Homo sapiens: one gene and its partners. The protein of the gene in region 1 binds, or shares a complex with, the protein of each later gene. Each region holds a gene or a part of one and is shown on either strand. Other genes may lie near its edges.

What was found.
Region 2: PIGH (region 1) and PIGA share a complex: the UniProt entries of both Homo sapiens proteins name them as parts of the glycosylphosphatidylinositol-N-acetylglucosaminyltransferase (GPI-GnT) complex.
Region 3: PIGH (region 1) and DPM2 share a complex: the UniProt entries of both Homo sapiens proteins name them as parts of the glycosylphosphatidylinositol-N-acetylglucosaminyltransferase (GPI-GnT) complex.

Annotation. Positions count from the first base shown.
Region 1 is NC_000014.9:67,593,597-67,597,318, reverse strand, and holds part of PIGH (phosphatidylinositol N-acetylglucosaminyltransferase subunit H), read left to right. Parts: intron 1-3,366; coding exon 3,367-3,576; intron 3,577-3,722. UniProt on the Homo sapiens protein: Part of the glycosylphosphatidylinositol-N-acetylglucosaminyltransferase (GPI-GnT) complex that catalyzes the transfer of N-acetylglucosamine from UDP-N-acetylglucosamine to phosphatidylinositol and participates in the first step of GPI biosynthesis.
Region 2 is NC_000023.11:15,322,034-15,325,539, reverse strand, and holds part of PIGA (phosphatidylinositol N-acetylglucosaminyltransferase subunit A), read left to right. Parts: intron 1-387; coding exon 388-520; intron 521-668; coding exon 669-875; intron 876-3,506. UniProt on the Homo sapiens protein: Catalytic subunit of the glycosylphosphatidylinositol-N-acetylglucosaminyltransferase (GPI-GnT) complex that catalyzes the transfer of N-acetylglucosamine from UDP-N-acetylglucosamine to phosphatidylinositol and participates in the first step of GPI biosynthesis.
Region 3 is NC_000009.12:127,935,055-127,939,343, reverse strand, and holds DPM2 (dolichol phosphate-mannose biosynthesis regulatory protein), read left to right. Parts: upstream 1-1,489; 5' UTR 1,490-1,523; coding exon 1,524-1,526; intron 1,527-1,820; coding exon 1,821-1,910; intron 1,911-2,033; coding exon of another isoform or gene 2,034-2,129; exon of another isoform or gene 2,130-2,527; intron 2,528-2,565; exon of another isoform or gene 2,566-2,688; coding exon 2,689-2,791; intron 2,792-3,563; coding exon 3,564-3,622; 3' UTR 3,623-4,245; downstream 4,246-4,289. UniProt on the Homo sapiens protein: Regulates the biosynthesis of dolichol phosphate-mannose. Regulatory subunit of the dolichol-phosphate mannose (DPM) synthase complex; essential for the ER localization and stable expression of DPM1.

The DNA of each region.
Region 1 (3,722 bases):
TTTTGTAGAGACAGGGTCTCACTAGGTTGCCCAGGCTGGTCTTGAACTCCTGGCCTCAAGCGATCCCCCCATGTTGGCCTCCCAAAGTGTTGGGATTATAGGCATGAGCCACCATGCCTGGCCCAAACATTTTCATTAAAAGACTAGATAGTAAATATAGCAGGTTCTGTGGGGTCTGTCTCATAATATTCTTTTCTTTCTTTCTACAACCCTGTAAAAACTTAAAAATCATTCTTTGCTTGAGATGGGCCAGACAAAACCAGACCACAGGCCCAAATAGTTTACAGATCCCTGATCTAACACTATGGGTTAACTATGAAAAAGTAGAAAGAGACCATCAAAGAAAACCAGAGCTAGTGAGTAGTTGAAGTGGTACAAAAACCAGATGTTATTCAGGAACTATTACAGTAGGGGAAAAGAGACTTCAGTATAGACTTCCAAATTTCCTCAGTTCCGAATATAGCATGGACAAGTGGAGATTTATAGCCAAGGAGCAAGGTGGGAGTCAGTGGATGGAAAATTACCCAAAGGAAACATCAGGGGCAAGGTGGGATTCTGGCTAAATTGACTTGACAGGATTCTTGCTGAAGGCATGCCAGGCTGATCAAATACCAAGGGTGGGAGTTCTTTCTAAACTGATTCAGCAAGATTCTTGCTACAATTGGGTGGGTAGTGCAGGCCCAACAAAGATGTCAAGGTCAGGGCCTAGACAGCTTAGAGGAACCTGACTAGAAGTAGATAAAGGAGGGCATCTTGTCAGTGCAAAGAATAATAAGACACTTCCTGCCCTCAAGGAATGCAGTCCAAAATTACAAAATTTCTTTGATTCTAGGTCATCAATAATTTTTTTCCTGTGCCAGTCTTCTAAATCATAGCTTTGCCGGGTGCGGTGGCTCACACCTGGAATCCCAGCACTTTGGGAGGCTGAGGCGGGTGGATTGCCTGAGGTCAGGAGTTCGAGACCAGCCAGGCCAACATAGTGAAACCCCATCTCTACTAAAAAAAAAAAAAAAAAAAAAAAAATTAGCTGGGCGTGGTGGCGGGTGCCTGTAATCCCAGCTACTAGGGAGGCTGAGGCAGGAGAATCACTTGAACCCGGGAGGTGGAGGTTGCAGTGAACCGAGATCACACCATTGCACTCCAGCCAGGGAAACGAGTGAAATTCTGTCTCGAATCAATGAATGAATGCAAGCTTCTGGGAAAAAAGATAAAACAATGCCACATGAAAGAAACACACACCAATAGGAAAACACATTTTAACTTCAGAAATGTTAAAGATTATACATTGGTCTTAGAATCAAGGGAATAAATAATAGACACCATTTTTTGAGCCCTTAACACATCACTTAGTCAACTGTAAGTAACACAGAACAACTAAAATAGCCTTAAGAGATAAGGACCTTTTATATTAACAAGAAGTCATAAGGTAGGAGGGCTCCAGAGTTCACGTGGAGACTCATTTGATTCCGGCTCTTGTCATCTTACTGCTGACACCCTTAGTGTGCCCTACTTGTCCTCCACCTGGTCCTCCAAGTGCAGAAACTGCACTTCCACCCTTAGCGTCCTCTAGTTGTCCTCTACTAGCTCTCCACTGGGTCTGGCAGAGGCCATAGTAGTTCCAGGTATCTAAACCTCATGATGAAGGGAACGTCTCTTCTGCAGATTTTTAAAGATAAACTCAAGTTTTCCAGAAGCCCCTCCAGCAGATCTCCCCTCACATTTCATTGGCCAGAGTTGTGTCACATGCCAATTTTTAAAGCAGTCATTGGCAGAAGGAGTGGGAACCAATCATGGTTCACTCACTGTTCAATTGGGGCTGGTGGGTGGCTGTTTATTAGGCAAGCCATAGTATCTGCTACACTGTGCTAAGCACTTTATAATTGTTCAGTCTATGATTTTGCACTATATACAGATGGTTCCCAACTTACGATGGTTTGACTTAGGATTTTTTTGACTTTAGGATGATGCGGAAACAATACAAAGTCAGTAGGAACGGTACTTCAAGTAGGAACGGTACTTCAAGTACCCATACAAACATTGTTTTTCACTTTAAGTATAGCATTGAATAAATTATATGAGATTTACCACACGTTACTGTAAAATCAGATTTTATGTTACATGATTTGCCCAACTGTAGGCTAATGTAAGTGTTCTTTTTTATTTTTTTTATTTTTATTTTTTTTAGACGGAGTCTCGCTCTGTCACCCAGGCTGGAGTGCAGTGGCGCGATCTCGGCTCACTGCAAGCTCCACCTCCTGGGTTCACGCCATTCTCCTGCCTCAGCCTCCCGAGTAGCTGGGACTACAGGTGCCTGCCACTACGCCCGGCTAACTTTTAGTATTTTTAGTAGAGACGGGGTTTCACCGTGGTCTCGATCTCCTGACCTCGTGATCCGCCCGCCTCGGCCTCCCAAAGTGCTGGGATTACAGGCGTGAGCCACCGCGCCCGGCCTAATGTAAGTGTTCTGAGCACGTTTAAGGTAGGCTAGGCTAAGCTCTGATGCTTGATAGGTATATTAAATGCATTTTTTAATTTTAATTTTTTATTTGAGTGCTAGAACTAAATATTAAATGCATTTTCATCTTATAATGGGTTTATCAGGACATAACTCCCTCCTGTATTCTGCTGAGGGAGTGTGAAAGGAAAAGATTTGGGGTCCTTTTTTTTTTTGAGATGTCTCACTCTGTCATCAGGCTGGAGTGCAGTGGTGCGATCTCGGCTCACTGCAACCTCCGCCTCCGCCTCCCAGGTTCAAGCGATTCTCCTGCCTCAGCCTCCAGAGTAGCTGGGACTAGAGGCACGTGCCAACACGCCCAGCTACTTTTTGTATTTTTAGTAGTGATGGGGTTTCACCATGTTGGCCAGGATGGTCTCGATCTCTTGACCTTGTGATCCACCTGCCTTGGCCTCCCAAAGTGCTAGGAGTACAGGCGTGAGCCACCTCACTCGGCTGGGTCCTTTCGATTTTTAGAGACAGTGTCTTATGCTGGTACCCAAGCTAGAGTGCAGTTCTATGATCATAGCTCACTGCAGCCTCGAACTCCTGGGCTCAAACGATCCTCCTGCCTCAGCCTCCCTAGTAGCTGGAATTACAGGTGCAAGCTACTGCGTTCAGCTGATTTAGGCCCTAAAGTTGGAATTTTGGAAGAAAAATTTCTGAGATTGCTGTGATGGACATTTTGCTGATGGAGGTTTCCCCTAGACCTATCCATTTGTTGTCTGGATCTGTTTCACTGTATACTTTCATAGCACCTTAGAACCCAAATAAAAGCAATTTCCTTTTCCTCCATGCATGTTCCCCTCATTGCCTGGAGTTGACTGGTACCACTTGGTAATCTTACTGTCTGTGTCTGGCTCTCTCTTCAGAACAGCATGATCCTCTCTGCTGCCATCTTCATCACCCTCTTAGGTCTGCTTGGTTATCTCCATTTTGTGAAGATTGATCAGGAGACTCTGTTAATCATTGATTCCCTTGGCATTCAGATGACTTCATCTTATGCTTCAGGCAAAGAAAGCACTACCTTCATAGAAATGGGCAAGGTCAAGGATATTGTCATCAATGAGGCCATTTACATGGTAAGTATTTAAAAGGTAAGTATTACAGGCCTCTCTGGAGGAGGTAGCCAGCCCATGGGATGTTCCCAGATTTAAACTAAAACCGTAAAAGTGAGACTTATATTTAAAAGGTAAATCTCTTTATTTTTAAAGAGATGCAGCAGGTT
Region 2 (3,506 bases), on another chromosome or scaffold:
TTCCTCAGTAACTTACACAACACAAGGCTTGTACGTGTAAAGCATCAATTTTAATAAAAAGGCCATTTTCCTGTTTACAAATGGCACTTTAACATTAAATTATCAAAGTTTATTAATATTATTACATACAGACTAGTTTTGGAGAAGATAAAGTTTGATATGTGTAACAAAAGTTAGAAATAATGTTCGCTGTATGAGTTTTAACCCAACTGCTTTATAAGGCTGTTTCTATTAGATCAGTGTTTGGTGATACTAATCTTGAGGTGGAGAACATTAGCAGCAATAAGAATTTAAGTGTAATATAAATAGCAGACTTGGTTTATAAATTAAATTTCTTTTGTAGCATGAGTTTTCACTCCTTTCTTCCCCTCTCATTTAAAAAATCAGGGTGCGTCTTTTGGGAGCTTTAGAACACAAGGATGTTAGAAATGTCTTAGTTCAAGGACATATTTTTCTGAATACCTCCCTTACTGAAGCATTCTGCATGGCGATCGTGGAAGCAGCCAGTTGTGGTTTACAGGTAAAAAGCTTTGAGGGCATTCATGGTTGGGATTTCTGTGTATTTTGAAAAATAATGAGACACATTCCATAATAATGTTTTAACTGGTTTTGTTGATCTTCCTGAGGTATGATTATGGTGGAGTATGTGTTCTTTCTTTCTTTTTAAGGTTGTAAGTACCAGAGTTGGTGGAATTCCTGAGGTGCTTCCAGAAAACCTTATTATTTTATGTGAGCCTTCAGTAAAATCTTTGTGTGAAGGATTGGAAAAGGCTATTTTCCAACTGAAGTCAGGGACATTGCCAGCTCCAGAAAACATCCATAACATAGTAAAGACTTTCTACACCTGGAGGAATGTTGCAGAAAGAACTGAAAAGGTATGTCACATGCTGAGAAAAGATTGTGTCTGAACTCTTACTTGATGTTTCACGTACACATTTGCTTTTTCTTACATAGATGTTTACCATTTTTGTTCTATTGCTTAAGTTGATGAAATCTCTTCCAGGTGAAAAGAAACAGATTTTGGTACACACACCGGGCTAAGTGTCTGGTCAAATTATTGCGTTTGACATTTGAAAATAGCAGTAATACAGTCTAGCCCCCTCATTAAACTGGGCATAAAGAAGTTACAAAATTTTCTAAAAGTCACAATGAGTAGAGACAAGACGAGTATTAAATCTACTCTTAGATATTTTCTTGAAGCTGTTGATAATTCTAAAGCAAACATCTCTATTAGGAAATGCATGGTTTTGCTGATTGCAGCAACTTTATAACTTGTGAATATTTAATTCAGGCTACTTCCTAAACCTCTTGTAGCCCTTTTGCTAACTACTGTGATTTTCTCCAGGAAAAGGATTTTTGCATCTTTGGGCTGATTGAGAACATAGTAAGTTAGAATTCAAAATGTACGTGACAAACGTGGGAAAAATCACAAATAAAAAGCAGCAACAGAGAATTTCCAAAAGGACAGGTATAGGAAATAGATTAACACCCTTAGGTAGGAGATTACAGTTGTGGGAAATGCTTCCTGAATTTGAATTAGGGACTGCTTTCATTCTCAGTTTCATCCTTTACGTCCTTTTCATGATGTTCTCTGCCTCATGCCTCTTATTACCATGTAACAAGCTGAACAGAAACAACTCAGCTTCTTAGTATGTAGAAATTGTGAACCAGAAAGATAACCAGGTGGAACATGGAGAAGGTAGTAGTTTAGAGTAATGCTACCAACGTGATATTCAGTGGAGCAATGAGTTTTTAGCCTAGAGTAGATAGCAAGTTGGAGCTGAGGAGAATAGCTCTTTACTGTAAGGCTTTCTTACTTGGTTTGAATGATGAATTCCAGTATATAAGATGAACTCATATGTGAATGGAAGTTCTAAAAACTTATCTCTAAAAATTGTCTTATACATTTTCCATTGAAACATGAGATGTTTGCGACAGTCAAACATTTTTGACTGAAGCATTTTGAGACATTCTGACCTTCTACAAGTCTTGTACTATCTCTCCCATATGAAACATGGAAAGTTGGAGTCTAGTGCTTACCTGTTGGGAGTACATGTCAGAGTCCCCGGGCAGCCTTTTCAGACTCTCTCTACTCCATCTTGATGTCCCCCTGCCTCCCCAACCACTCCCTAGATTCCAGTGTTATCCTTTAGGAGCAGAGATAGAATTGGGGGTATAATTGGCAGGGATATTTGGTCAGACAGGTTATTTTGATGATACCATCCTGATCTCCACTCCCTTTGAGAACCATGGCACTGTTAAGTTGTGACTTGACCTTCTTCATTGACATCGTATAAACCCCAGAAGCCTGAGCCACTGTAGGTAATAAGTTAACAGGGAAAGAACTGTGGTGACGGTTTGTCAGCATATAGTAAAGGGGCTAATTGGGATTTTTTTGGTAACCACATTTTTCTTTTGGTTAAAGTAATAGTACAGCATCTGTATTTTTTTTAATTCTATGGTGATTTATAATACACTTTTAGAAAAAAGTAAATCCTTGCCTATAATGGATTGTCATCGCTAACATTCTCTTCATAATAGTAAATTGTTATTTTATCACTTAAAACTATAAGTAGATTAATTGACCTGAAATAAAGCTGGACAAAAAAGTCAGTTTGTAGTTACTCTTTTAACCCTATGACATTTTAATTCATTTCAACTCCTCCTTCTTAGTTTAACTGTGCTATTTAGGAAATCGATCATGAAATTAATTTGGAGTTCATGCTGTAAACATACTTCTTCAATTGCAATTCACCAGTCTCAGCATAATTCTCAACATAATTCTGATTAAAATGTTTGTATTCAGAATGTCCTCAGGGTAAAAGAGCTCGATGAAAACATGCCGTACCTTTCAAGGGCTGTTGACCTGTACAACATGCACTGCATGTTATAACTTCCTTGAGTTCAAAAGGAGACGGTTTAAAGGTCTAATATATGAGACTAAGCACAAGTAATACTCAAATTACAAAATATGAATGTTGGCCCATTTGATGTGTTCTGAACAAGTATGTTTAAAGATCTTCGTTTTTTGATATTTTAGAGCTTAGTACTTAGCAGTGTTTTAAAAAGCAAGCCACCTACTTGCTCAGCAAAAAACGTTATTTCATTTGCCAGCATTTGACCTATACTATCTACTGAAATTTCCCCCATCTCTTTATCTTCTTTTATTTGAAATCCATGAAATGCTTCTGCATGTCCTCACCATCCATGCTCAGCAACATGTACAGCCTCATGTGGCTGTTGAAAGAGGAGGCTCTGTGTTCCCAGAAGTATGCTAGATTGTAGCTCTCTGCTTGTGGTTGATGTCTGCCAGATGCCGGTGAGAGCATCTCAGCTTAGTCAAGGAATCTTCAAAGGCAAATCCTGCTTCAGTACTGCTGAAGTCACTGCTGAATTAAATATTGACCCTACAGTGGTGACCCCAAAAGCTGTTCAGACTTTGCGGGACTTTGGAATTCTAGTAGTTGGCTAAAATTGATGGTGACTCCCTAGGGGAGAGGAACTGT
Region 3 (4,289 bases), on another chromosome or scaffold:
AGGCCTCCACATAACCCCTCAGGGAGGCCTGGAGTCCAGATGCTGTACTCCAGTATCTAAACAATCACTCAATCTTAAAGCTGACAGGTTCAAAGCTCTTACTTTGGGCCGAGCGCAGTGGCTTACGCCTGTAATCCAGGCACTTTCGGAGGCTGAGGTGGGTGGATCACCTGAGGTCAGGAGTTTGAGACCAACCTAGCCAACATGGTGAAAACCCATCTCTACTAAAAATACAAAAATTAGCTGGGCGTGTTGACACGTGCCTGTAATCCCAGCTACTCGGTAGGCTGAGGCAGAAGAATCGCTTGAACCCAGGAGGCAGAGGTTGCAGTGAGCTGAGATCATGCCACTGCACTCCAGCCTGGGTGACAGAGTGAGACTCCCGTCTTGGGAAAAAAAAAAAAAAACAAAAAAACCTCTTTCTTTGGGCCAAGCCTCCACTGAGTGCCAGGGATACAGCAGCAACCTCAGACCCTACCCTCGGGGCTGACAGGGCTGGATCAACAATTGCATCAGTGAATTAAAAGGCACAGGAGGCTGGGCACCGTGGCTCACGCCTGTAAACTTTTGGAGGCCGAGTTGGGAGGATCGCTTGAGCCCAGGAGTTCGACACCAGCCTGGATAACATAGAACTCCGTCTCAAAAACAAACAAACAAACAAAAAAAACGTTCCCGACTGGCTTCCCTGAGGAACGTGGCGTCCCAGTGAGACCGGATGGGTGAGGAGCAGCCGGCCTGTGAGTGGTGGGGGACCGCGTTCCTATCTCGGAGCTGAAGAAGCGTGGAAGATGATCTGGCCCAACATCTCTTTGTTCTCAGAGGAAGGGCCTTCCAAGACCGGGGAGGGGCCTGTGCGTGGGTCCCGGTCCGAAACGTGTCTGGGCTGCTGCGAGAGACAGTCGGTGAAGGAAGGGAGGGGACATCCGAAGGGTGGCCCGGGAGGCCGGGCGATGGTGAGGAGGGCGCCTCCTCTCCACCAAATCCTCCCCATCCATGCGGGCTAGGGACAGACCCTCCCCCGCCCACCCTAGGCTGGAAAGTGAACGTTCTCTGCACCTCTCCCACCTACAGACTAAGTAGGGCACCCGGTTTCCGTGTCGGCTTCACCACTGACTCGGAATGGGATCTACCTTTCTCTGAGCCTCACTTTTCCCATCTGAAAAATGGAACTTCCGATCCCGCACTCCCATCCCACTCTGGCCCCGGGACTCTGGGATACTTAGAGATTGGCTTTTGGTGGGGCGGCGACAGGACTGTGGCCATGAAGGCCAGGGAGTCTGGGTCCCCAACTCGGTCCCATTCCCTAGAGAGATTCGGGCAGCAACCGGCCCCACAATGCTCTTGAGAACTACACTTCGCCGATATGCAAAGAAGAGGAGGCGGTTCCTGCTCGTCTCCGACGAGGTGGGCCCGAGCAGGCCTGGGGACTACGACTCCCGGCGTGCTCCGCAGTCCAAAGCCGGAAGAGCGTGGACCCGGAACCGGATGTGGCTTGCGGCTCGGGTGGCTGAGCGCGCGGGGAAATGGTGAGATTGGCACCGTGTGCCGGAGATAGGGGCGTCTGGGGGTGGGGTCCCGGGTCTGCTCAGGAGCTGGGGCATGGGCACTTGGAACGGGGATTGCTCTCCCGCCCCCACTATTGTACGGACGACAACGCGGAGGCCTAGCATTCTCTCCCAGCCTAGAAACTGATCCCTAGTCAGCCCTCTACCATCTGTTGAATGGGAAGCTTAGACCGTGATCGGGCCGCGACGCCCCGCTTCCATTAGTGCGCCGAAATAGAGGGTCACTTCGTCAGCTGAGACCTCCCTTTTCTCCAGGCCACGGGGACAGACCAGGTGGTGGGACTCGGCCTCGTCGCCGTTAGCCTGATCATCTTCACCTACTACACCGCCTGGGTGATTCTCTTGGTATGTCATTCTCCCCGTCCGCTGCTCACCTTCCCCGAGCCCTGGCACCGCCAGAGCAACTACTATATAGGCTCTAGGCACGGCGCTGGCTTCATTGCCTGCCTCATCTCTTGAACTCTCCAGAACAACTCTATGAGGAAGATGCCAGTGGTACCGCATTTTATAGATGAGATAGCTGAGGCTAGGGGAGAAGGATCTGGCCCAAGATTGCATCCTTAGCCGCTACACTTATAACTCTGTTTCCGGCTTGCTTTGACTTTTGGGGGAGTTCTGTTCCTTCTGGGTTAGCCTGCTGACTCTTAGGCATGGCAAACGCCAGTGATATTTGTGAAGGCCTTTAGGATATTTTTTTCTTGTGGGAAAACTTGTTGGTTATTGCTTAAGAAGTGCAGTGTGTCTGGAAGTGCAGAACTTGGTATCCTTTAGAGAAAAAATATTAGTGAAGAAGCCCTGGAGGCCCAGGTTGGGAGTCAGTCGAGGATTCCTCAAGTACCATTTGCTAGGCTGTGAGGTGCCTTAGGGCAGGTCTCTTGTGCCCTGTTCTCTTGTCCCCACCACCAACCTATAGCAGGCACCAAAGCAAGTGCCCGGTAAATACCAATAAGAAATTAAGGAAAGAAACAAACCACGACACCCAAATGCCGTAATCTTAAAGAAAAGCAAATGCAGTCCCAGTCCTCTGAATGGGTCAGCCCCTTAGATGGAGGAGGTGGGACGTTTGGGCTTGGGGGCTCGGCAAGGCAAGCAAGACACACCAGAGCTCTTCCCTCGATGCCAGCCATTCATCGACAGTCAGCATGTCATCCACAAGTATTTCCTGCCCCGAGCCTATGCTGTCGCCATCCCACTGGCTGCAGGCCTCCTGCTGCTCCTGTTTGTGGGTAAGTCATCACCTCCTCCCCTTGACCCTGGGCAGGGTTTCGGGAAGACCCCACCTCTGAACATGCTTCCACACTTTGGCGGTGCTGGAAGCTGCTTGCCCCGAACTCACCCGTGGGGTTTTCCTGTTCATCCTTCGAGGCTGCCAGTCAGTAACCTCTGGGTTTCCTGGTGCCCCAGGCTTTTTGGACTCCAATGACCTGTCTACCTCTTTCCTGCCCCAACCCCATCATCACTCTGCTCACACCTCAGTCACCCTCTTGTCACCCTGGCTTCTAATTCCTGCACCTCTCTCTCTCATGGCTTCCTAGGGATGGGGACTGTGTCTCCATCATTACTGCACATCTAGAACAGGCTGTGGCACTGAGGCTGTGCTCAGAAAGTCATTTGGATGAGTCAGTCAACAGCCGGGTGCCTGGATGATGGGTGGATGGATGGGTGGGTGGGTGAGGTGTAGGAGGAGGTGGGTAGGTATGTAGGTGGACAGACAAGTGGTTGACCGGGTGATCGATAGATGGGTGGATCTTGTTCCCCTTGGAATCTGAAACACTAAATGCAGCATCTTGCTTGAGGCAGGCACTCAGTTGGTGTTTGTTGAGTGAATGTGAGTAGACATATGCCTTGACGAATGACTAGGGAGATAAGCAGGTTCCCTGGAGGATGGTTGGGTAGGTTCACAGCCCTGTGTGTGGGTGGCTCTGCTGTGTCATGCCCTGGCCTCCCAGCAGCCCTGAGCTTAGATCTTATGTGGCCTTTCTGGTCTGTGTATCCCAGGACTGTTCATCTCCTATGTGATGCTGAAGACCAAGAGAGTGACCAAGAAGGCTCAGTGAAGGTCCCGCAGGGATGAGGCTGCCAGCCCCTTCTCTGCTTCCCCTCCAGCACAGGGACCAAGTGGGGGAGCCTGCAGAACCTGTCCAGGCACAGTGGCTCCTCAAGCCTGCCTGTCCTGCAGAGTCCCCATGGCATGGAGCTTACACCTGACTGACTGGAGCCCCCTCCCCGACTCCCACTTCCAGAAGCTAGGAGGGAGGGATACCTGGAAGACTCCGGTCACCTCCTTCTTGCTCAGGGCCTAAAAGATGCTGGTCCTCCCAACCTCACTCTCAGACTCCCTGCCACCTTTTCCCCTGGGTTCTGCCGTCTTGCCTCACTTCCCCTCCTGTCACATGCTGACGTTGGACTTAGCAGGTTCTAAGGCCACATGTGTGACCTCTCTGACTTCTCTTCCTCCACCAAGGCAGCTTTCCTTACCCTGACACAGCCCCAGACCCCACAAAGCCTTCTGGACCTGGAAAGCCTGGGGAAGGACTGACAGACCCCAGGACCAGCCCTGGGGCTCAGGGCAGCCACCCCGGGCCGCTGACCGACTGACCTCTCCTCACGGAGGCCCAGCCCCAAAGCCCCAGGGCTGGCCCGTTTGGGACAGCTGACCAATAAACACTGATGGTGTGTTTGTCTCTGTGCCGTGTTTACCCAGGGTCGGGGCTGGAGCGGGCT